Homo sapiens: one gene and its partners. The protein of the gene in region 1 purifies or fractionates together with the protein of each later gene. This does not show direct contact. Each region holds a gene or a part of one and is shown in the gene's direction. Other genes may lie near its edges.

The links.
Region 2: the proteins of UNC119 (region 1) and RNF34 purify together in Homo sapiens (affinity purification with mass spectrometry; 4 studies listed by BioGRID and IntAct, with this or other methods). This does not show direct contact.
Region 3: the proteins of UNC119 (region 1) and RSPRY1 purify together in Homo sapiens (affinity purification with mass spectrometry; 4 studies listed by BioGRID and IntAct, with this or other methods). This does not show direct contact.
Region 4: the proteins of UNC119 (region 1) and LIMK2 purify together in Homo sapiens (affinity purification with mass spectrometry; 4 studies listed by BioGRID and IntAct, with this or other methods). This does not show direct contact.

What each region holds. Positions count from the first base shown.
Region 1 is NC_000017.11:28,546,163-28,549,624, reverse strand, and holds the end of UNC119 (protein unc-119 homolog A), read left to right. Parts: intron 1-919; coding exon 920-1,033; intron 1,034-1,523; coding exon 1,524-1,626; intron 1,627-1,775; coding exon 1,776-1,948; coding exon of another isoform or gene 1,949-2,001; exon of another isoform or gene 2,002-2,215; coding exon 2,216-2,328; 3' UTR 2,329-2,917; downstream 2,918-3,462. UniProt on the Homo sapiens protein: Involved in synaptic functions in photoreceptor cells, the signal transduction in immune cells as a Src family kinase activator, endosome recycling, the uptake of bacteria and endocytosis, protein trafficking in sensory neurons and as lipid-binding chaperone with specificity for a diverse subset of myristoylated proteins.
Region 2 is NC_000012.12:121,417,118-121,424,117, forward strand, and holds part of RNF34 (E3 ubiquitin-protein ligase RNF34), read left to right. Parts: intron 1-386; coding exon 387-794; intron 795-3,124; coding exon 3,125-3,217; intron 3,218-3,459; coding exon 3,460-3,661; exon of another isoform or gene 3,662-3,874; intron 3,875-6,268; coding exon 6,269-6,459; 3' UTR 6,460-7,000. UniProt on the Homo sapiens protein: E3 ubiquitin-protein ligase that regulates several biological processes through the ubiquitin-mediated proteasomal degradation of various target proteins.
Region 3 is NC_000016.10:57,189,329-57,196,373, forward strand, and holds part of RSPRY1 (RING finger and SPRY domain-containing protein 1 isoform 1 precursor), read left to right. Parts: intron 1-6,730; exon of another isoform or gene 6,731-7,045.
Region 4 is NC_000022.11:31,207,444-31,215,340, forward strand, and holds the start of LIMK2 (LIM domain kinase 2), read left to right. Parts: upstream 1-4,854; 5' UTR 4,855-4,965; coding exon 4,966-4,981; intron 4,982-7,897. UniProt on the Homo sapiens protein: Serine/threonine-protein kinase that plays an essential role in the regulation of actin filament dynamics. Acts downstream of several Rho family GTPase signal transduction pathways.

The sequences.
Region 1 (3,462 bases):
CCAGGACTACTTTCTCCATGGTGGTGGCTCATAGCCAGGGCTGCGTAAATGACCTCTAAGGGGGTTCTCTCTGCTTGCTAAGACTTCCTCCCATTTGGAGATCAACAAAGGATGAGAGCAAAGTTGGCCTCCTCCCACCTGCCATATCCCAGGCTCTGGGCTTGAGTCAGCAGAGCTTTGGTTAAGCTGCTTAAGGGAGCTGGGCTGGTGTAAGCTTCTTACTGAGAGGAGGGGGTTTGGAGGAGAGGAGGAATAGGGAAGGGGTTGTTCACCTGCCCCAGCCCCACCCATATCAGGGAAAGTCCCCTTAACATCAGCCTCACCTGATACATCTAGATGTCATGCCAGGGGCAGCTGTGGGGTGAGGGTAGGAGTATCCTCCAGAGAAGGACAGTGACTCTCCCAAGACAGAGCTGTGTGGCCCCCTTTACAGGTGGTTCTCAAAGGCAGGGTACCAGAGAAGTTGATACACTGAGTTGCAGTAGAAGAGACAGGTCAGACTGCAGGAAGTTGTTCCCATATGAGAAGAGAGGCTCCCACCAGGCTGGATACCTAATTCTCCCAAAGTCATCTAGCCAGCCTTGGCAGAGCGGAGGCCAGAATGAGGACCCTCAACTCCAGAGTGGGAGAGAGAGTGTTCAGGAGGTGGCCTTGTCCTCTACCCTTCTCTGCCCTGCCCTTCCCTGGCCCCCAGAGACCAGTAGGATGGCACTCCTTATCCCCTGTTAGATCCCCATGGCGGAGTTATGTCTCTTCCACACTGGGGGTGTACCCCAAGGGCAGGGACTGAGGTCCCTCTTTCCAGAGGGCAGTGATCCCAGGGATGAGAAGATGGTAGCTACTCTGGGGTCCCACACAAGCTGACCTGGCAGCAGGGGCTTTGCGGCCCCTTCCTTGCTCAGCTGCCTGTTTCCCCTAGACTACCTCTGCTCCCCTGAGGAGAATATCTACAAGATCGACTTTGTCAGGTTTAAGATTCGGGACATGGACTCAGGCACTGTCCTCTTTGAAATCAAGAAGCCCCCAGTCTCAGGTGAGTGGGCTGGGTGGGCCATTGATGGGGAGGCAGATAGGAGCTGCGGAGTGGGCTGCCCAGGGAATCCTTGGGCCACAGAGGAGTCCACAGAGCTGGGGCTTGGACCCCAGCATTCTCAGGAGTCTGCAGGCAGGGGGGCCCTTTCTTTTCCTTCCCATATGTTTCTGAGGCTGGACATCTTGCGAGGTCAGCCCTACCCCTTCGGTCCCTGCCAACCTGCCCTCTGCAGGGCTCTCTGGGAACTGCAGTCCTACGGGTCCCAGGCCTCAGCATCCTGTGGCCCGGGGAAGCACAGTGGCGATTGGGAACATGCAGACCTAGAACCCCTAGGTGGCACTATTTGGCCAATGGTCTGAGCCCTCAGTGTGCCCCGGAATTTCTTGGGGAGTTTAAAAAAAATCAGATAGATGGGGACCCAAGGGTAGAACCCTGGGTGGACAAGGGCCCAGCCTGAAGCCCACTGAGCCCCAGCTGGGGTACATTGCAGAACGGTTGCCCATCAACCGGCGGGACCTGGACCCCAATGCTGGGCGCTTTGTCCGCTACCAGTTCACGCCTGCCTTCCTCCGCCTGAGGCAGGTGGGAGCCACGTGAGTCGCTGGGCTATGGGTGGTGGTGGGGGTGAGGGAGAGGGTGTGAGTGGGCCCTTCTCAGCCTCTCGTAGGGGTGGCCTGTCCTGAGCCTGGCTGGCTAGTTGACTTCAAGGACAGACTTAGCCCTGCCTCCTTTTCTTGCTCAGGGTGGAGTTCACAGTGGGAGACAAGCCTGTCAACAACTTCCGCATGATCGAGAGGCACTACTTCCGCAACCAGCTACTCAAAAGCTTCGACTTCCACTTTGGCTTCTGCATCCCCAGCAGCAAGAACACCTGCGAGCACATTTACGACTTCCCCCCTCTCTCCGAGGAGCTGAGTGCGCGGGCAGGGTCTTCTGGGAGTGGGGAAGTGGGGGCGTCTAGAGACTGAGCTGCGGGAGGGAGAGGGACTTGTGGGTCTGATCCCATTTCTCCCCACCCTGGGGCTCTTCTGTGTCTGCCACCATTCCCATATCATCCGTAGAGAAAGAGGCTGGGGATATTTCAGGCTGTTTGGCTGTCCCTGTACCCCAGTCCTGAAGCCCCTGCAGTGGCGGGACTCAAGCTCCTGACCTTTGCCCGGCCTGGCTGGGCCTCTCTTGCAGTCAGCGAGATGATCCGCCACCCGTATGAGACCCAGTCTGACAGCTTCTACTTCGTGGATGACCGGCTGGTGATGCACAATAAAGCAGACTATTCCTACAGCGGGACACCCTGACCCCACGGCTGCCCTGACCCCAGGAGGCTCCAGTTCTGGGCTGGGAGCTGTGACCTCCCCAACGCTCACCCCTCAACCCCAAGTCCTCTGCTTGGGGAGTTCTCCAGGAGCTCCGGACCCTGAGTCAATGTTGGGAGGAAGGGTACCTGGTGTCCCCAGTCAAGCCCATGAAGCCCATGCGGCCTGCTACATGGGGTGGGGTCGTAGGGAGGCTGTTTGCCTCCACGTCTAGGAAGGCCTGTGAGAGGAGCAGTCAGGACTTCCGGACAACTTAGCTGGGCCCTACTTGGGCCCAAGTTTCAGAATAGTGTTCCCCTATCAAGGCTGTGACTAGATCAGGCAGGGATCCATTCCCTGTCCCCTGCCCACTACCTTCAGGCCATTTAGAGTTGTAAATTTACAAAGATCCACGGTGGGCTCCAGCTGCCAAGCCACCCAAGGGAGTCTGGGCCCTAGGCCTAGCCCCATCCCTCCCCATGAGGGGCCAAGACACTGCCTAAGGTGTGGGAGGGACTGGCTGAGATTGCAGCCCATGGTAGGAGCTGGACCAACTGTATATAGTTTTCAATAAACTTTTTCCTTTTCTGTTCTCTGGTGTGGCCAGCCTCTGTGTGTATGGGCAAAGAAGGGAGCAGGGATAGGCAGGAATGTGCTTAAGGCAGTAAAAATTTCTCCTACCTCCCACATTCCAGTGCACTCTCACCCCTTAGTCTTCCTGTCCCCTGATTCTCTGTACCCTGACACCATATAGAGTCAGCATTTAGAACATGATGGAGCTGGAGAGGGTCTTTCTTGTGATGAAGGAGACCCAGACCCTGAGAGGGGAAGCTTTGGCCCAAAGTCAGAGCCAACCCTGGCAGAACAGAGGCCGAAACAAAGGCCCTGAACTCCAGGGTGCAAGGGGAAGGTGTGGGGGGTGGGGGTTTGGCCTTGTCCTCCACGCTACCTTCCCTGAACCCCAGAGGCCACTAGGACCACTGGGTTGTGTTTTTAGCCCTCATGATAGACGGTGGCAGGGCTTTGGCTAAGGCCTGGAGCCATCTCCTTGCCCTCAGCTGCCTTGGGGAGCCCCCATGCCTGGGTAGCCCTGCACATAACACTGCCCTCAGCCTCCACCCCCACCCCAGACTCAGA
Region 2 (7,000 bases), on another chromosome or scaffold:
TTTTGTCTCCTGCTCTTTAAATGGAGGAAATTGTTCATGTAGGAAAAGACCAGGAAGTGTGATTCTGCTTTCTGCTCTGTGTGGTTCAAGCTCTGTTTTGTTAATTACATGTTTATACCAAGGGGTGGAAAGGTTTTAATTCATTAACACAAGAGTGTGTTTTTCTTAAAGTCCTATATTAGAACTTCTGTGAATCCAGACTGCCTTGGCAATGAATATTTTGATTTTCATGGCTTTTGAAACATGAAAATACCTCTGGAAATAGTCTGGTGCCACTGGGGACTTCACTAAGAACTAAAATTAAATTTTAGTAGAAGGCAGAAAGAAAACTCATGCTTTCATAATGGTTTATATCTTGCTGTCATCAAATGCTTTTCTTTCTTCAGCATGTTTGCTGTGACTGCAAGAAGGATTTTTGCTCCGTTTGTTCAGTCTTACAAGAAAATCTCCGTAGATGTTCTACTTGTCACTTATTACAAGAGACAGCATTTCAGCGCCCTCAGTTAATGCGACTGAAGGTGAAGGACCTGCGGCAGTATCTCATTCTGAGAAATATACCCATAGATACTTGTCGTGAGAAAGAAGACTTGGTGGATCTAGTACTGTGCCATCATGGACTAGGCTCTGAGGACGACATGGACACAAGCAGTCTGAATTCTTCAAGGTCCCAGACTTCTAGCTTTTTTACACGTTCGTTTTTTTCAAACTATACAGCCCCCTCTGCTACTATGTCTTCGTTTCAGGGAGAGCTTATGGATGGAGACCAAACATCCAGATCTGGAGTGCCGGCACAGGTACGAGGGGGTAACTAATTACACCCAGGGCCCGGCACGCTTATTCTTGGCCGTATATGGTGGGGCCTTTAGTGCTTGATGACTTCTGATAAACTTCAAGTCATGTGCTGGAGTGAAGCTTCCACACCCAGCTGAACTCTGCACTTAAAGGCTGTCCTGATGTATAGTGTCTGCTGAGGTGCTAGGTGGCTCCAAAGTCTGCTGTCTGAAGGGTCCCAAAATAGCTCATCAGTCTCTTGGCCTTAGTTAATTTCTCTGTCTTACACAGTTAGACACTAACTGTTGAAGAAATGGCTGTGAAAAAGTAGCACATACACATTTGTAGTGTTATGTGTTAGTGCACGTGTTTCAGTGACCACAGAAAACAATCAGTAGTGTAAGTTAGCCTAATGCCCATTTGTCTTGCTACAGTGAAATTGTTCTAATTTAGTTAATGAAAGAGCCATCTGAATTAGTGAAAAAATGTAGTTATTTACTAATTGTAATTAATAATATTGTCCCAGTGAGGTCCTTGGACATCCTGATTGAATAACATGTAAAGGCTTGTAATTAATATTTACTTGTACGTGAGTGATTCTAAACTGCTGAAAGAAATGTTTTGAACAAATTTTTTCACGCTTAATTTTCTTCTCTGAAGAAGGGGGTTATTAAAAGTAGAGGAAAGCTGGATGCGGTGGTGTGAGCCTGCAGTCTGATACTTGGCAGGCTGAGGCAAGAGGATTGCTTTAGTTCAGGAGTACGAGGCTGCAGGTGTACCATGATTGCAACTGTGAATAGCCACTGTACCCCCAGCCTGGGCAACATAGCAAGACTTTTTTTTTTGTTTGGAGGCAGAGTCTCACTCTGTTGCCCAGGCTAGAGTGAAGTGGCGAGATCTTAGTTCACTGCAACCTCTGCCCCGCTGGGTTCAAGCAATTCTCCTGCCTCAGCCTTCCGAGTAGCTAGGATTACACCCCAGTTAATTTTTGTATTTTTAGTAAAGATGGGGTTTCACCATGTTGGTCAGGCTGGTCTCGAATACCTGACCTCAGGTTATCTACCTGCCTTGGCCTAAGTGCTAAGATTACAGGCATGAGCCAACCGCGCCTGGCCAAGAGTGTCTTTTAATTAGTAAATGAATAAATGCAGAGGGAAATTTGGTCTAATTGCCTTCTAGATATAGTCCTGTGTCCTCTAATAATGTTTTGGTCAGTGATAGACCACATACACGGCAGTGGTTCTGTAAGATTATAATACCATATTTTTATTGTACCTTTTTTGTGTTTAGATATGTTTAGATACACAAATACTTATTACTGTGTTATAGCTGCCTACAGTATTCAGTACACTAACGTGATGTACGGCTTCGTAGCCGGCCATGCCCTATAGCCTAGGTGTGTAGCAGGCTGTGCCATCTAGGTTTGTGGAAGTACACTGTGATGTTCGCACAATGACAAAATCGCCTAAGGACACATTACTCAGAACGTCTCCTAGTCGTCAAGCAACACATACTGTAGTCGTAAATTAGATAAGTCCAAGCCAGGAGTTTTATTATTCTCCCAAATGAGAATTGGCATATTTATGCTGCAAACATAAGGCACAGCTGACTTACATACCCCTTTTGGGTATACACCACCATTTGGGTGATGTGGATTGTTGGATGCTACAGTATGGTGCCTGGCAATCAGGGTGGAATATTTGAAATTGGGAACCGACCTAGCTTATTGGAGAGCTATTGTCAAATATAGTCAAAAGAAAATATGTGAAGGAAGGTACATAACCCAAACTGAAGAGATTTGTGTTTTCTAAAGTGTTCTGATTGAGAAATTTTAAAAACTAGAATTAGCCTCAGCCATCAGTGAAGTCTAGAAAGCCTTCGTTGGAATTAGATTGTCTAAGTACGCTGTGGTAGGACTGAGATCTTTCAAATCAGATGCCCCTGATGCTTGGGCTGACCCATCAGAGCTTTAGCTTTTTTCTGTCTGCATCTTACAGGCTCCAGTTAAACTAGCCATTTGCAGGTACTTTGATAATGACACAGTGCTGTCCCATATCCTTAATGGCTTTGGCATTCCATTATGGGACCTTCCTGAGAGAGTTAATACTCTGGTTAGATTTTATAACTTTACACACACACAGGAATTTGTGTTTTGAGCTAACTTTATGGAAGGTAGGTTCTTCATGCAATTTTGTAGGGCCCAACTTTTTGGAAGGGTCAGCAGCATTCTGAATCCAAAGATGTGCATTATGCTGGCTTTCTGGTCATCATGGGGAGCATCAATGACAAGGTTTTCTCTAGTGATAAATACAGATTGATTCCTGACCTAATCAGATACGTTGTATAAGTGTAGGTACAAAGTGAAATCACTTCAGCAAACACAGAAGATGATGATGACGACGATGATGAGGATGATGATGATGAAGAAGAAAACGCAGAGGATCGGGTGAGGCCACCTATAAAATTTGGTTTCCCTGACATGTCAGCCTGACAGGAAGGGACAGTGCCCTGTGGACATTCGCTAGATTAGTACAGGATGTTTCTTCTGGTTTGAATGTAGGACAGTATACTGAAACACTTCTAGGACTGCTGAGATGGCTGGGAGAATATTCAGGGCCAGTGATGAGTTTAGAGTGGGGAGGGTCTGGACTTATGGGACCAGGGCTAATGGATGCTCTGTGGTTTCAGAACCCCGGGCTCTCCAAGGAGAGAGTGAGAGCTTCACTGTCTGACTTGTCAAGCCTTGATGATGTGGAAGGAATGAGCGTGCGCCAGCTGAAGGAAATTCTGGCTCGGAATTTTGTCAACTATTCTGGCTGTTGTGAAAAATGGGAACTGGTAGAGAAAGTAAACCGGTTATACAAAGAGAATGAAGAAAACCAAAAGTCCTGTAGGTTTATCTTTTCATTTTTTCCCTGTAGTATTTTTCCTTAGGCTTTTAAAAACTGGGTTGTTTTTGTCACAATTAAGTCAAATTTATTTTTGAGAAAGCTGTGTACCATTTTACTGAGTATCAGTTAGTTACATGAGCCTGTTTATAGATCTGGAAAGGAGTAACTTCATTATGTGATGTTCATTATGGCTGCGAGACCACCACTGCCAAGTGAGTTAGAAAATTATTCAATTTGGTTTTTCTTACTATAATTAACTATTTGTTACAACCCTAATTAAATTCCTCGTCTCTGTAAAAATGCTTATTTTCTCACTAATGCCTTTGGCCGGCCAGTACCTTGGTTCTCTCAACTTTTAAATCTAACAGTAGGGGGAAAATTCCCTATAGCCCAGATGTTACATAGTTCTTAGCATCAACTATCTGTAGATTTCTGTGTAAGTCACAAAAAGCTGAGGTTAAGAACTTCTGAACTAGGCTGGGCTTGGTGGCTCACAACTGTAATTCTAGGACTTTGGGAGGCTGAGGCAGGAGGATCACTTGAGCCCAGGAGTTTGAGACCAGCCTGGGCAACATAGAGAGATCCCATCTCTAAAAAAAAAAAAAAAAAAAAAAAAAAACCAAAAAAACCTGGTGTGGTGGCACCAGCCTGTGGTCCCAGCTACTTGGGAGGCTGAGGGGGGAGGATTGCTTGAGCCTGCAGGGAGCCGTGGTCATGCCACTGCACTCCAGCCTAGGTGACAGAGCAAGACTGTCTCAAAACAAAACAAAACAGAACAAAAACTTCTCAACTATACATTGATGAAATTTGGCACAGAAATTCTTCCTCAGCTGGTAACACGATCAAGCCACGGAACATTTATGGACAAGAAAAAATAATTCAGTTGTATTTATTTTTTTCTTTTTAATTGTAAAAAAAATATATATGTACTTAATATTTTTAAATTGAGACAGGGTCTCACTATGTTGCCCAGACTAGTGCTGAATTAGGCGTGGGCCACCATGCCTGACCCTCAGTGGTGTTCAGACTAACAAATCTTATGTTCCTATCTAGCTTAAACAGCCCTCCCATCATTAACTTTTATCATCTTGAGTTTTGTCCTTTAAAAGCTGGTTATAATACAGCATTTGTTGATGAACAGGTTTATGCCCAGAATATGCACAAAATATTTTGGCAATCCTACTTCAAAGATGATGTCACAGTGGTAGATGCAGGAATCTTCATCCTCAGAGCTTTCAGAGGTCGTAGGCTGCTGGCTGGGAAATGGTTTTCTGGCAGTGAGGGGAGAAGTCAGTTGACTTCATAAATGTAAATAGCAACTATGTACAGTGCACAACGATAATGCCATTCCCACCCTTAAGTACTTTGCGGCGTAGGATATAACATGGTTGTTATTATGACAGCATGGTTTCCAGTGTCTTTCTCCATTAACTCACTGCATAATCTAACCCTAGTTCAATCTCTGGCTTGGGTGGAACACACATTTTGTTTTGAGCACAGCTGGCATCTTTCCTAGCTTGACTGGCTCCAAGTCACTACCAAGATTGTTCCCATATCCCTGACAAGATACTGGCTCCTCTGCTTTCCTAAGTTCTAAAGAGTGGGAAGGAACCCTCCACACAGAAGGAGAGACCAAGGCCCACTCTGATTTCATCTTGAGTTGCCTAGTGCCTTCTCCATTGGCATATCTGCCATCTCATCCCATAGATCCTTTCTCCCCAGGTCCACACCAGTAGTCGTGGGCCATGAACTAAGACCCCAGATCACAAGAATCTCTCCCCATGAATGGCAGTAAAACATTTCTCTTAAATCTAGAGACTACTGACCTTTCAAGCTTGAATTCCTGTTCTGTTCCAACTATTCATGATTCCCTTTGATCTCCTCTGACCTGTAGAAAGGGAAGCACCCAAATCCATAGCCCTATGGCCAAATCTCAGGCTGGGGTTAACTTTTTTTTAACTTATTCATCGTCTTTCTTATTCACAGACTGGATTTTCTCAGATGTAAAGGTGGGCCAAGAGCCAGGACGGCCCATCTCTTTCAAGTTAGACTTCAGCAGGGCCAGGAACACAGATGGCTTGAGATGATTCTAAGGCTAGGGAGGGAAGGATGCACAATTATTCCTAACTTTCCTAAGGGGGAACTAAGGCTCCTTTTCCTACTGAGATGAGGCTCCAGAGACTGTGGTGTTCCCAGGGCTACAAAGCTGGGGCAACTGAGTTAAATTCCAATAGCATCCTGACTCCAAAGCCCATCTACAGAAGACCAGCTGAGGGTTTCTTTTTCTAGTTACAGAAGTAATATATCCCTATCACAGATGTCTTGAATTAGACAAAGATATAAAATAGAAATACATAGCTAACATTTGTTGGGTACGTCAAGCATTTTATTCTTTACAAAACCCTGAGGTATAGCTTTTATCATTGCCATTTCTAGTGGAGAGAACCAAAGTGCAGAGAAGTTGGGATTATTTCTTGTACAACACTGGGGTGGCATTGGGCCTGCAGGGGTCATTCAGCAGGTGGCTGCTCAGCTTCGGACTGGGAGGGTGGCTGGCTGACTGGCCATGCCTGAAGCCGAGGCCTTAGCTCTCTGTTGCCTTTCAGATGGCGAGCGGCTGCAGCTGCAGGATGAGGAAGACGACAGCCTGTGTCGCATCTGCATGGATGCCGTCATCGACTGTGTCCTACTGGAGTGTGGGCACATGGTTACCTGCACCAAGTGCGGCAAGCGCATGAGTGAGTGTCCCATCTGCCGGCAGTATGTGGTGCGAGCCGTGCACGTGTTCAAGTCCTGAAACAGGCTCCCCTCACCAGGACAGTCACCCCCAAACTTGACCCCCAACATTTCAATGCACAGAAGGGACTGGAAAGTTATGTTCAAAGGCTGAAGCTATTTTAAAACATTATTTTGACTACTAAGTGGGGACAGAAAGATCCATCCTGAGTTGTGGAAACATTGGTCCATGCCGTGAGCCTGTCTGCCTGTGGACACGTGAGCTTCCCGGGCTCAGCTGGGCTTTATCACACATCCCGTGAACACTCATTGAAGTCAGCCTGTTTGCGCCATGTGGGCATCAGCCACTGCTGTCTTGGGAGGACACTTATCCTGTTCTCTTATTTCCCCTTCATCCTATTTTTAACTTAAACTGCTCAGATGTTTGAAACTTCTGTCCTCTTTGGATGAGATCAGTGTCCACAAGTGGCCGACATGGAACATGCTGAGCAGTGGCTCCTCTGAATGTTCACTTTATTAGTCATGTATATTTTAAATGCTAACATTTGATGAATGTAAGTTTCCACATTGTTGCTGTTTCTGCATTTAAACATAATTGGGAA
Region 3 (7,045 bases), on another chromosome or scaffold:
AGGTATACCAGCATACTCTATGTGGGCTTCTGCTTTTGTCAGCAAAATAACTTTTCATTTAGTAAGTATCAAAGGGAAATAAAAACTTAGCATTTTGTATAATAGTGTGTTAATCTGTAGTGAATCAGGTAAAAACAACAAATCTGAGTTATGTAGCACTGTGGGGCCTGGAGGCTAAAAAAAAAAAAAGTGTGTTTTGTCAAGAGTTTAACAAACAATTATTCTGTATTTCTTTTTTTCTGTTTTTTCTTTTTCTTTTCTTTTCTTTTTTTTTTTTTTTTGAGACAGGGTCTCATGCTGTCTCTCAGGCTAGAGTGCAGTGGTGCAATCACGGCTCACAGAAGCCTCTACCTCCCAGGCTCAGGTGATCCTCCCACATCAGCCTCCCAAGTAACTGGGACTACAGGTGCGAGCCACCACACCTGGCCAATTTTTGCACTTTTTTTAAGACAGGGTTACGCCATGTTGCCCAGGCTGGTCTCAAACTCCTGGGCACAAGCCATCCACCCACCTTGGCCTCCCAAGGTGCTAGGATTACAGGTGTGAGCCACCATGCCTGGCCTCGTGAGCTTAATTTAGTCTGTTGAGAATTGTATATGCTTTCCTTAACAATGAAGTAATTTGTTCTAATGAAGTGGGAAATCCCTTTGCATCTTTTTAAATACAGCTTTCTTTCACACTCTATATAGTTTGGAGAAAATGTTAGGAATTCTTGAAGGTAGTAATCACTATTACACTACTTAAGATTGGAAGTTATGGCTGGGCATGGTGGCTCACACCTATAATCACAACACTTTGGGCGGCCAAGGCGGGAGGATCACTTGAGCCCAGGAGTTCAAGACCAGCCTGGGCAACATGGCAAAACCCCATCTCTACAAAAAAATACAAAAATTAGCCCAGCGTGGTGGCACATGCAGATAGTCCCAGCTACTTGGGAGGCTGAGGTGGTAGAATCTCTTGAGCCTGGGAGGTTGAAGATGCAGTGAGCCACTGCATTCCAGCCTGGGTGACAGAGCAACACCCTGTCTCAAATAAATAAATAGGAAATGTTCTGTATTTTTTAGTAGGATACTTGTAAAGTGGGGTGTGATAGTCTCAGGATTGCAAAATAAGTGGAAAGTCAGTAGTCACCACAAATGGGAAACACAGTGGAACCAGCAATCTATTTCAAAAGAATTATTTGGGGATAATAAACTATGGATTTAGCTTCTCTTCAAGCTTTTGGCATTTTCAAGGCAGTTATCATTGAATTTGGGTAGTTTTTTCCCTGATATTCAAATTAGAAAATTGAAAAGCAGAATAATCACGAAGTAGTAAATGCCGTAACTTGGGCAACAGCCTTTTGGAGGGGACTTTTACAACTTTTAGAAGTGCAAAGGAGTGAATATTTCCCTTTGGTTTATCATTCAGTAAGTCAGCTTTTGAAATCCTTTTCTTGCCAACCTTTGTGAGTAGAGAAAACATACAAATGTGTCCATTCCAAAAGGGAGTGGTTGCTGGTTAAATATGTAAAAGTAGTAACTTTAGATAAATGTGTGGTATATACAAGGTTAAATCAGGAAAAGTTATCTTATAAATAGTGGTGGCCTCTTAGAGAACATTCCGCTTTGTTTCTGAGCTTTTGAAAACTGAGAATACATTTGAAATAGTAAGGAATTTATGTACTCCTTAAATTTGTTAAGGAATGAACTCTGCACATAGCTTTCTTGTTGCTTGAAATTATAGTTTCCAGGCGTAATTTCATAGGTCCTATGTACCTCAAATAGAAGGTTTGAAATACCTTACTCAGCAAGTATATTACCTCATAGTTTAATGTTCAGTGTTAGTTTTTTCTTACCCCTCTACCTCCTGAAGAATTGTTTTCGCTCTTGTGTTCCCTTAATGCAGTGATTCTCAAGATGTGGTTTCTGCCCAGTCCCTCCACATGGGAAATATAGCACTGTTTGTTTGTTTTTTTAAGTTTTTATTGCTTCATAGTTGTTCATACTTAGGTATGCCTAAGGGCTACTTATTAATAACCTACCAAGTGAATTACTAAGGATTACTAAAACATGGTATTCATAACCTAAAACTAGAACAATATTGGAGTTTACTGTGGTCTCTTAATACTTTTTTCGCCCAGGAAGTCTGTCCTGGGAAACCTGGCACCAATACAAGCTTCTCACATGTCATATGCAGAATGGGGATTCCTGCAGTATTCAGGAAGTATGCTTAGTTTGGGGTGCATCATCTGAATTGTCTCAAAATAATGTCAGTTTTCATCATGATTCCTCTTTTTTTATTAGAATTTTTATTTAACTTCATCTTTATCAATTTAATTTATAGGTTTTTTTGTTTACTTTTCATTGTGTGGGCAGGAATATTTATACCAACAATATTTTGGCTTATAATGTAAGACATAAATGTGTTACAATGCAAAGATAGATTCTCTAGTCCCCTTTTGCTATTGCTGATTTGTATAGTCACCTAAAAACTTGCTCACACAGAGGTACTTCAGTGTTACCAAAGTTCCTTTTACACTGGAAAACTGATGGAACAAGAGGCCTCCTTCTAGTAGATGCTTTATCTGTAGTCTTTGGGTAGGGAGCTAAGTTTGTCCCTAACCCCAGCTCCCTTTGTCAGGAGCATGAGGGACCTTTTTCCGTCTTTCCTCACTGCCTGCCATATAAGCATTGGATATATAGTTATTGAATGGTGTTGTCTCAGTTTTTCAAAATGGTAAATATTTTGGAGAGACTTTATGTTACAGATTTTAGAATAAATTCACCTAAGATATTTATTGAATACATATTAGGGTCTAATAAGTATCCAAATGAGTATGCAGTATGAGTGTTTTAGACATCATTTAAAGTAGACATCATTAAGGAAAATGTTGATATTCATGCTGCTTATATATTTTATTTGCTTTTCTTAAGAGCAGAGAGTTTTCTGTAATAGAAAAATCCTTTTCCTTCAGATTTGTGTATATTTGAATAACACATGATCTCCTATTATTTGGCCTCCTGGGGGGAAAACCACAAGTACTACGGAATATTACATTTGTTTTTCTTCCCTGTACTGCAACCGTCATAAGCATTTACCTCAATTCTTCCTTAGTATTTTTTGGGAGTCCAAGGCAAATTTTTCAATCCTTAAGATTTCAGGCAGGGATTATTTACTTCCCCTTTTTTACTATTATTTGCTTCCGGAAATTCCTTACTCTATCCTAGGCCTAAATTTTATTTTTTAGTAAATTATTTGAATGCTGAAAGGATTTGTCTTTTCTCCTTTGTACCATTTTAGGTCAGGACTATATTCTGTAATTCTTTCTGACCACAGATGCACTGCTACTAGGTTAAAAAAGCTCTCAACTTTTTAGAGGAAGGTTTTTCCAGAGACTCTTTTTTTTTTTTTTTTTTTTAAGGTCTCACTCTGTCTCCTAGGCTGAAGTGCAGTGGTGCGATCATGGTTTACTGCAGCCTCGACCTCCCCAGCTCAGGCGATCCTCCCACCCCTCACTCCCACTGCCCTTCCCAGTAGCTGGACTATAGGGTCCAAGCCGCCACTCTGGCTAATTTGTGTATTTTTTGTAGAAACAGGGTTTCGCCATGTTGCCCAGGCTGGTCTCAAATTCTTGGGCTCAAGCTGTCTGCCTGCCTTGGCCTCCCAGAGTGTTGGGATTACAGGTGTGAGCCACCATGCCCTGCTCAGATAGTCTTTCAACCAGAAAAAAATACCTACTTTCAAAGGTGTGCTTTCTTAAAGATCCTCAGTGCATAAGGGAAATGTCAGAATCATCCAGTGCTTTTCCCAGACTTCTTGACAGTTACAGTTCAGGAGTTAATGGTACTCTGTGTGACCTAAACCTACGGTTAGATAGCTTTGGACATCTGGGAGGCAAGTAAAAACGCCTCATCAAGACAACCTTTCTTTTTGTGGGAAAAGTAAAATTCCAACCAAATATTTCACAATCTACCCCCTTCTTACCTTCCCCAATGAAATACCAGAGGCTTTAGAGTCTAAAGACAGAAACACTCTTGTTGAAACATCTTTAGGTAGTTTCTGTTTCAGCTGGCAAGTGTAATCTTCATGCATTACCAAATCAGTATTGTTGACTTGAGATTTTCCCTATTTAAACACAATCTTCAGTAAGAAGATTGTGGTCTTTGGGGTGTTCTGCAGGCTTTTTTTTTTTTTTCTTTGGAGACAGAGTCTTGCTCTGTCACCCAGGCTTGAGGGTAGTGGGATGATCTCGGCTCACTGCAACCTCCACCTTCTGGATTCAAGTGATCTTCCCACCTCAGCCTCCCAAGTAGCTGGAATTACAGGCACACGCCACTGTGCCTGGCTAATTTTTGTATTTTTTTAAGCAAATATGTTTCTAGATAATGTTCTCTATCTTGATAGGGTTTGAGTCACAGGTATATGCATTTGATAAAACTCAGCACGTTACTGTGCTTAAGATTTGCACATTTCAGCCGGGTGCGGTGGCTCACGCCTGTAATCCCAGCACTTTGGGAGGCCGAGGTGGACAGATCATTTGAGGTCAGGAGTTTGAGACCAGCCTAGCCCACATGGTGAAACCCCATCTCTACTGAAAACACAAACATTAGCTGGGTGTGGTGGCATGTGCCAATAATCCCAGCTACTCAGGAGGCTGAGGCAGGAGAATTACTTGAACCCGGGAGACAGAGTTTGTGGTAAACTGGGATCACACCAGTGCACTCCATCCTGGGCAACAGAATGAGATTCCGTTTAAAAAAAAAAAAGATTTGCACATTTCAGTGTATGTAAATTCGACTCCTAAAAACTTGAAGTTTATTGAAGTCTAATTAGTGATATGCATGCTGAATTATTTAAGAGAAAGTATACTGATGCCTATAGTTTACTTTGAAATATGTAAAAAAAACTGAATGGATTAATGATGGATAAGAGATGGATAGCGATAAAGCAAGTTTAGTAAAATGTTAGTAGTAGAGTCTAGGTGGTGGGGATAAAGCAAGTTTAGTAAAATGTTAGTAGTAGAATCTAGGTGGTGGGTATATAGTTCACAGTTTACAGTGAACTCTAATTCAATTTTCTGTATGTTTGGAAAATTTCATAATAAAATATTGGGAGTGGGGAGTAAATGTGATGATAGAAGCTATCTCTTTAACACACTTAGGGAAAAATCCGAAAACATTTTCTAATGAGAGAACATCATTAAAATTTTCAGGATGTTACACATTTTGCTATTCATGCTATTTGACTTAGCCTTTGTGGGGGAGGGTTGGAAAAAAAGTCACATCCTCTAACACTATTTTGGAATGATAAGGTGAAGATTATAACAATAGTAATTTAGTGCCCAAAGTCTGGTTTTTCTTCTTTATGGTCACTCTTGTAATCAGCTTTTCCTTCCTAGGCAGTGTAATTCTGCAGTCCTATTTTCAAAGAAAAGAAAGTGTTCTTTCTCACTGATCTGTACTATGGCTGAATGCAAGCAAATATTTGAAGAGATGAATCATTGATTCCTGGACCATTTGTCAGAGAGGGTTAGACTAGTTGGCCAGATGTCTCCATGGTGAGCTGTTTATGATGGTAGAGGTCTGTGTTTTATAAAGACAGTGAGTACCAGAACCTTACTGCTTTAACACCAAGCTTACCAAGACCCTAAGTTTGATTATTTTTTTTTGTCTCAGAGCAGCTTTAAAAAAATATAAAGCGTTAGGTGCTTCATTTACCCCCAAGAAAAATGAAAAAACATGTAAAATGTAAAAATCTAATAAATAATATAGAAATGGAGAGAATAGTCTTTAGTTTCTTTTTTAAAAAGGCAAGAATCAAAATTAATAATACCACACTTCAGAGAAATAGATTTGCAAAGGAAATATTCGATCATAATTATGCTCTTGCAGCAAAATTGTTATCGAGAGTATAATATTAGGCTGGGCATGGTGGCTCACACCTGTAATCCCAGCACTTTGGGAGGCCGAGGTGGGCAGATCACCTGAGATCAGGAGTTCAAGACCAGCCTGGTGAACATGGTGAAACCCCATCTCTACTAAATGTACAAAAATGAGCCAGGCGTGGTGGCAGGCACCTGTAATCCCAGCTATTCGGGTGGCCGAGGCAGGAGAATCGCCTGAACCGGGGAGATGGAGGTTGCAGTGAGCCAAGATCACACCATTACACTCCAGTCTGGGCAATGAGAGTGGAACTCCGTCTGAAAAAATAAAAATAAAAAAGTATAATCATATTAAAAGTATTGCCACTTAGGTGGTAAGAAGAGTCCTTCTACTAAGCACTGGCATCCAGTGATAAAAATTATTAAATCAGTTGATGTTTGTCACAGATGTGTATTTAAATTGTGTGACTAGCTTTTTTTTTTTTTGTCTCAAAGTTGACTTCACCAGCTAATGTTGTCTTTGAAGTTAAGGTAAAGAATATAGGTATTGGCCAGGCACGGTGGCTCACACCTGTAATCCCAGCACTTTGGGAGGCTGAAGTGGGTGGATCATGAGGTCAGGAGTTCAAGACCAGCCTGGCCAACATATTGAAACCCCGTCTTTACTAAAAATACAAAAAATTAGCTGAGCGTGGTGGCACGCACCTGTAGTCCTGGCTACTCGGGAGGCTGAGGTAGGCGAATCACTTGAACCCAGGAGATAGAGGTTGCAGTGAGCCGAGATCTCACCACTGGACTCCAGCCTGGCGACAGAGTGAGACTTCATCTCAAAAAAAAAAAAAAATATATATATATATATATAGGTATTACAGATGTGTTGCCTTTATATAATCTCATCTTACTCATTTTCTATTCCGTTCAGTCTCTTAACCCTTGATGATATCCTTAAGCAGCGTATCATTTAGGTTCATTTTGATGCTTCGTAAGATGGACCTCATGGGAAATATATGGAGCCATTTTTTCCTTTGTGTTGATATGTACTGTACATGTCACTTATGGATATAACCATTCTAATGGCTTTTTAGGCTGACCTCTCCAAAAGACTGCATTCAAAGATAGTCTCAGTTCATTTTACTGGACAAGGAAATTAACATTTTTGACCCAAGAAGAAATGCCCTTTAG
Region 4 (7,897 bases), on another chromosome or scaffold:
GTGACAAGCTGCCACAATAGAGCTTAGCTTGTCACTTATCAGAGCCTTTAGAACAATCAGGTTACTCACTGTCAGCGTCTCTCCATCTGTTTAGTAACAGGGCAGGTGGGCTGTCAGCCAAGTCCTCTCTCTCGAGCAGAAGGTGTGTCCCTCCCTAAGGTTCCTTAGTAGCAGGGTGTAGTGTGAGATGGAAGATGTTGCTGAGGTTACAAATCTGGCCCAGCCTCAGCCTTCCCAACATGCCAGAGCTACAAGTAATTCCTCTGAAAAGAGCTTTTTTTCTTCCTCTTAGATTTTGATCTAACAGTTATCAAATTGAATAGTACCAAGATACAGTGGGGAATGCAAAGGTGAGGGAACTTCAGGAGCTCATAAGCCCAATGAGAAAAGACCAGGTTTTTTTTTTTTTTTTGAAAGATTTTAATTTTAGGCCAGGCATGGTGGCTTACACCTACAAACCCCAGCACTTTGTGAGGCTGAGGTGGGAGGATCGCTTGAGGCCAAGAGTTTGAGACCAGCCTGGGCAACACAGGGAGACTCCATCTCTACAAAAATAAAAAATATTAGCCAGGCACAGTGGTGCATGCTTGTGGTCCCAGCTACCCGGGAGGGAGGCTGAGGTGGGAAGATCACCTGAGCCTGGGAGGTCAAGGCTGCAGTGAGTTGTGATCATGCTAGTGCATTCCAGCCAGGGCAACAGACCCTTTTAGAAACAGGGTCTTACTCGGGTGCCCTGGCTAGAGTGCAGTGGTGTGATCACAGCTTACTGCAGCCTGGAACTCCCGGTCTCAGTAGGTTCTCCCACCTCAGCCTCCCAAAGTGTTGGAATTACAGGTTTAAGCCACCATGCCCGGCCTTAGGTTTTTGTTTTCGATGGGGAAAAAAAAAAAAAAACAGTAGTAGAACAGGACAATAAAGCCTCCATGTAGCCATAACCCAACTCCAGTAACTATCAACTCAGATCAGTCTTGTTGCATCTATACCTCCCGCACGCTGTTCCTCTCCCACTGTCTGAACTATTCGGAAACAAACCCCAGTCATGTCATTTATTAAGTATTTCGATATGCATCTCAAGTATTTTAAAAACAAGCAAAATATGCCGGGCACGATGGCACACACCTGTGATCCTAGCACTTTGGGAGGGTGAGGCGGGCGGATTGCCAGAGCTCAGGAGTTTGAGACCAACCTGGGCAACATAGTGAAACCCCGTCTCTACTAAAATACAAAAAATTAGCCAGGCGTAGCGGTAGGCGCCTGTAGTCTCAGCAACTCGGGAGACTGAGGCAGGAGAATCGCTTGAACCCGGGAGGCAGAGGTTGCAGTGAGCCGAGATCGCACCAGTGCACTCCAGTCGGGGCGACAGAGCAAGACTCCATCTCAAAAAAAAAAAAAAAGCAAAATACCTTTAAAAAATTTCTTAAAATCATCATATCCAATCACATTGTTCAGATTTCCCTAGTTGTCTCATAACTTGTGTAGTTTCAATTGAGATCCAAATCAGTTTCATACATTGCTATTATTTGTCTCTGAATTTTTTTTTTTTTTTTTTTTGAGACAGAGTTTCACTTGCCGCCCAGACTGGAGTGCAGTGATGCGATCCCAGCTCACTACAGCCCCCGTCTCCCGGGTTCAAGTGATTCTCATGCCTCAGCCTCCTTGGTAGCTGGGACTACAGGCGCCCGCCATCATGCCTGGCTAATTTTTTGTTTTTTTGTGTGTGTGTTTGTGTGACAGAGTCTCGCTCTGTTGCCCAGGCTGAAGTGCAGTGGCGGGATCTCGGCTAACTGCAAGCTCCACCTCCTGGGTTCACACAATTCTCCTGCCTCAGCCTCCCAAGTAGCTGAGACTACAGGTGCCCGCCACCACGCCCGGCTAATTTTTTTTGTATTTTTAGTACAGACGGGGTTTCACCATGTCAGCCAGGATGGTCTCAAGCTCCTGACCTCATGATCCACCCGCCTCAGCCTCCCAAAGTGCTAGGATTACAGGGGTGAGCCACCTTGCCTGGCCTGTCTATGAAATTTTTTCTACTCTGCAGTTTATCTGTTAAAGAAACTAGGTTATTTGTCCTGTTGCATTTCCCACAGCATCATTTTTGCTATTTGCATCATGGAAATGTTATTAAGCTCCTCTTCTCCATGTATTTCCTGTAAGTTGGTTGTTAGATCTAGAAGCTTGACCAGATTCAAGCTTATTATTTTTGTTTTGTAAGACTACGTCATAGGTGATAGTATATACTTGGTGCGTCTTACCTGGAGGCACTTAATGTCTGGTAGTCCTACTTTGTGATGTTACAGATGCCACTATATCATTTAGAGTTGAGAAACAAGACTGCACTCTGGGCAGAGTGGGGCACAAAATTACAGAGAACCTGGAGAGCTGGTTGTTGTAGGAATGGCAGGTGGCGCAAGGCAGGATGTGCTCAGGAAAAAGCAGAGTCCTGGAGTGAAGGGAATAGGGAGACAAGTCCGCAGGGTGAGATGTAGTCAGCTCATGAGGACTGGTTTGGCTTTTATTTTGTAGGCAGTGGGGTGCTGTTGAAGGGTTTTGAACAGAGAGATGACAGGTCCAGAAACATACTTTTGGAAGATTAACACAGTCAGTTTTGGGTAGGATGATTCAGGGAGGGCAGAGACTGGCTCAGTTTGAAGCAAGTGGAAGTGACACTGGGCAAGTCTGGTTGGGTACCAGTGGACCAGTACCTTCAAGAGGGCAGAACCTTGAGTTGTTTTTCAAGGTCCAGGTTTCAGGATCCTAGGCTCAGAGAGTTGACTGTGAGGCGGCTGGCAGGATCTGGCCCTAGGGACTGACCAAGCTATGGCCAGTGAAACAAACTGTGGACAGGTAACCTGGGTGCTATTGAAACTCAGTTGGTCTACTCCCTGCCCAGGCTTTCTCTACCCTCCAGAAGTCCCCCTTGAGTTCACAAGTGATTTCTGGAATGTTCTTTGGGTCCATATTAAAAATATATCTCTTGGCTATAGCATTTCTATAGAAAGCTATTCCCTTCCATTACATTTTCAACTTGTGTTTCTCAGAGTCGCCTGAACTTCCCTGGGAGGAACTTGGGGGACTTGGCTATTCCCCAGCTCCCTGCTGGTGAAGACCATGAGGCTGGAGGTAGGAGGAAGTGGAATGTGAGAGAGAATGAGGAGGGAGAAGAGATAGACCTGGGTGCCTTGGTGTGGAACGGAGGGAGAGGGAAGACACCCAGGAGGTTTTGGTTCCCAGGATGCCAGTGCTTTGTTGCCTGGGAAAATACAGTGTTACATCTTTCTGTAGGAAGGATGGGGAAAGTCCCTGTCCCCTGTTTGCTAGCCATGAGGCAGCTTGTCAGGAGAGTCTCTGGATTCCTGTCACTTTAATTCAATACACAATCTTGTGTTTACTATAATGATTTCCTCAGAAACTACAAAACTGAGTACTGAAAAGAGTTCCCAGGAATTAACGGAAATGGGACAGAGCCCTCCTCCCCAGCACTTTGTGCACACTCAGGACATCGTGAGCCACCTGCCACACCCAGAAGAGAAAAATCTGACCGGCATCCGGTTTGAATTAGAGCAGGAAGGAAGAGAATTGTGCTCGCCTTTGTCTTTGCCTTTGCCTTTGCTTACCCAACTGCTGGGACCAGAGGCAGCTGGGTTGAACTTTGTCTTTGGTCAGGGGTGGGGGTGGAGGGGACAGAATCCATTTCCCTGGGCTCCATCCTCTTTCTGGTCATTTGGACATGTTTCCTGTGATCTAAATCTGATGTAAGGAAATGACAATTGTGAAAGACCCAGCGTGAGAGAATCTGATGGGAGGGTGGGTCATCAGGGACCAGCTGGCCTGGCTGATGATGTATTAATATCTTAATCACACAGAGGACCCCAATCTCCTTCCAAACCTAATGAGCGGAAGTGGTTCTCAAAGCTACTCAGCCAGCTAGCAGCTGCCATAACCCAGTCAGCTGTCCTAACTCTTAGTCCTGTAATCCCTCCTCCTCATAGAAGATTGTAAACTGGCAGCCCACAGGGCAAATCTAGTGGCCAGGTGTGTTTCATTTGGTCTACATGGCATTTTAAGAACTTTTTGATGCTATCAACATTTTTTAAAAGTGGCAAATTTCACCTAAATATCTGGATTTTTGGCATGTTTTGAAAGGTTGGAAGACCTGGGAATGGTAGGCCCATGTTCCTGCAGGGGAGTGCTCGTCTTCCAATGCGGCGCACAAGCTCCAGCGTCCTGCGCTAAACCTAATTGGCCTGGCTGAGGATCTGCTCCTGGAATGCTGGTTGGTCGCCTCCAACTGTCTTTGACTTAGAGATTATTTACTGTCAGCTTACTCATAGTGGCGCAGAGAAGTGGTTTCTCTGAGCTAGAAGCTTCTAAGAAAAGTCCATCCTCAAAGCTGTTTGTGGGATAGACCTGGCTCCTCCATTGTAATATTCCTGATTCCAAACACTACTGGAAAGAGCTCTGAACTGGCAGTTAGCAGGCCTGGGCTCCCATCCCGGCTCTCCTCCTAATGAGCGAAGCCATTTCAATGTAGTCGAACTTAGCCTCTGATCCTTAACTTTCCCTATCTGTAAATGAGGGCGACTAGATGGGTGCGGACTGTCATCCGTGTTGAGACTTCCGGCCCCCGCAGAATCAACCTTACCGGCGGGAGCACCTCGAGGGGACGCCGCTCGCACTAGGGGGCGCCAGGGCCGCTGCAGAGCCCGAGCCAGAGCCAGGGGGCGGGGCCGCGTCTCGGGAGCGAGGCCTGAGAGCGGCGGGGCGGGGCGTCGGCGGGCAGTCCCCTGTGCCAGGTGTGGTTTGGTCCTCCCAGGGCGCCGTAGGCGGTGCATCCCGTTCGCGCCTGGGGCTGTGGTCTTCCCGCGCCTGAGGCGGCGGCGGCAGGAGCTGAGGGGAGTTGTAGGGAACTGAGGGGAGCTGCTGTGTCCCCCGCCTCCTCCTCCCCATTTCCGCGCTCCCGGGACCATGTCCGCGCTGGCGGGTAAGGAAGGGCTGCTCCGCCCTGTCCCGCTGTTATCTCCGAAGTCCGGTTCCATGGCGCCTGAGGGAAACCGGCTGTCTCTCGGGGGTTTCGGGCTGGTTGGGTCCTCGTGGGTCCGAGCTCCTCAGAAAAGCTGGGAGGCGGGGTGGGCACAGCGCTCCCCAGGCATTTGGAGGGTGGGACTCCGGGAATGGGGAGGCAGGGCATCCTGGAGACAGAGGGCTCCGAGGGGCAGGCGGGTTGGGAGGCTTCCCGCGAGTTGAGGTCCCGGGGAGGAAGAGATTCTGGGTCTGCCAGGAATCCAGCTTTTTGGAGGGACCTGGCGGCCGCAGACCCCCAAATTAACCCTTTTTAAGGAAGTTGAAAAGCATGGGGTTCTCTTATAGTGGAAGCTCTGTGGAATTTGAGGAGTACAGGATCCTCTAGGGTTCAGGACAATTAGGAGAGTTACCCCGGGTTCTGGGTTTTCTGAGGGAAATGGAGGATGTGACTTCCCTGCCAAGACCCAAGGCTTCTCGCGGGCATCTTGGTGTCTGGGAGTCCCCCGGGGCTGGGAGCTCTTTGCAGAAAATAAGGGAGTATGGAGCCCCTTGAGGTTTAGGACAGGACTAAGGGTAAGGAGAGATCGGACCATTCTTTTTGGGGCCCAAAGATCTCTGCTACAGGTGGCGAAAGTAGGCCACCTGGGGTTCTGAGTCCTCCTGTGGAAGCTCCCTTGGCCTCTCTAGACTAAAGACTAGAGGGATTCGGCCAAACACCTCCTGGAAGGAAGAGTTGTCTAAGGGTGAAGGGTAGCTTCAGAGTTGGGTTAGTTGCACCTGCAGTCACCTCCCCGCCACCTCACACACCACCCTGCAGCTTCCTGCCTTCCCCATCTTTTCCCCCAGCAGTAGGAACCTTCTGTCTCCTATGTTTCCCAGCCACCTGTGTGGGTGGCCCACCTCTGGGTCCACCAGGGTCAGCGTCCAGAAGCTTTGGAGAGGCGGCAAGAGGGTATTGAGGTGGAGGGGGGCTGGCTATCTGCCCCCTGCTTCCTGGCTTTCCGTCTGTGGACAGTCACTTCCTTCATCTTGAATGCAAGGACTGGGCTACCAGTGGGTCACTTCCTCAGCAAGGGAGCATGGGATTTTCTCTTCACTGGTGATAACAGACTTCTGGAGAGAGCTAGGGGTGGAAATGCCTAAAACAAATTTTTTTAGGCTGGGCGTGGTGGCTCATGCCTGTAATCCCAGCACTTTGGGAGGGCAGGGCAGGAGGATCGCTTGAGTCCAGGAGTTTGAGACCAGCTTGGGCAATATAGCGAGACTTCATCTCTTAAAAACAAAACCTTGTCTCTTAAAAAAGATTTTTTTTAAGCTTACAGAGTCCTTCAACTCGAATGATTTCCAGTAACTTTTTTTTTTTTTTCTTAGATGGAGTCTTGCTCTGTCGCCCAGGCTGGGGTGCAGTGGCACAATCTTGGCTCATTGCAACCTCTGCCTCCCGGGTTCAAGCGATTCTCCTACCTCAGCCTCCCGAGTAGCTGGGACAACAGGGGCCCGCCACCACGCCCGGCTAATTTTTTTGGTATATTTAGTAGAGATGGGGTTTCACCATATTGGCCAGGCTGGTCTTGAACTCCTGACCTTGTGATCCGCCCGCTTCGGCCTCCCAAAGTGCTGGGATTACAGGCGTGAGCCACCGCACCCGGCCGATTTCCAGTAACTTTTTCTAACAGCTGTGTAATATAGGTTGCCTGTCTTGAACCCTGTTTCTTAGAAAATTGTGAAAGGTTTCACAGTACAATAGTCTAGAGGCATAAAGCCTCTAGATGCATTAGTTTATGCATTCTTTCTTTCATTCAAAGAATATTTGTTGGATTCTTCTGTGTCATATACTTAGCCAAATGCTGAGTACAGTGGTGACATAGTTCTTGGCTTTGTGGTGCTTAATAATCCTAGAGATGGACAATAAATAATTGTAACAATTGCAATAAATGCTATAATAGTTAAGGTAAACAATTGAGATAAGTGCTGTAAGAGTGCACCAGGGGTGAGGGTTTTCTCTACTTTTTTTTCTGTTTTGGTAGAGACAGGGTCTCACTATGTTGCCCACGGTGGTTTCAAGCCATCCTCCTGTCTCAACCTCCCAAAGTGCTGGGATTACAGGCATGAACCACCATGCCCATCCTCTACTTTTTTTTTTTTTGAAGGGAATACTTTTCTTAAAAATGCAAGTTTATGCTGACCCCTGGAGATAAGTAAAAGTTAGCCTGGCAAAAAAAGCTCACAGAGCATTCCAGGCAGAGGAAACAGCATAAAAAGGCCCTAGGGTAGGAAGGCATGTAGTGCCTTTGAGCCTTGGAGCTGGGAGGTCAATATGGTTTTTTGATTTTTTTGTAGGGGGTGGGGAGGAAGAGTCTTGCTCTGTTGCCCATGCTGGAGTACAGTGGCGCGATCCAGACTCACTGTACCCTCCACCTCCCAGGTTCAAGTGAATCTTCTGCCTCAGCTTCCTGAGTAGCTGGGACTACAGGCAAGTGCTACCACGCCCAGCTAATTTTTTGTATTTTTATTAGAGACGGGGTCTTACCATGTTGCCCAGGCTGGTCTCAAACTCCTGAGCTCAGGCAGTCCACCCGCCTTGGACTCCCAAAATGCTAGGATTATAGGCGTGAGCCACCATGCCCAGCCAAGTATGGCTTTTTTATAGATGAGGAGACAGGCCCAGAAATGACAAGGTTCCATAGCTAAATGAGCAGTGGTGGTCAGAGTTCATATTTTCCAACTTCAAGTTTAGTGCTTCCTCCTCTCTGTAGCACAAAAAGCAGAATGAAGTTGACTATGGAGTCTGAGAAGGAAGTGGGACTTAAACTTTCACTTGTTATTCCATTCAAACCATGTTCTGAGACACCTCAGATTCCTCGTGTAACCGGAG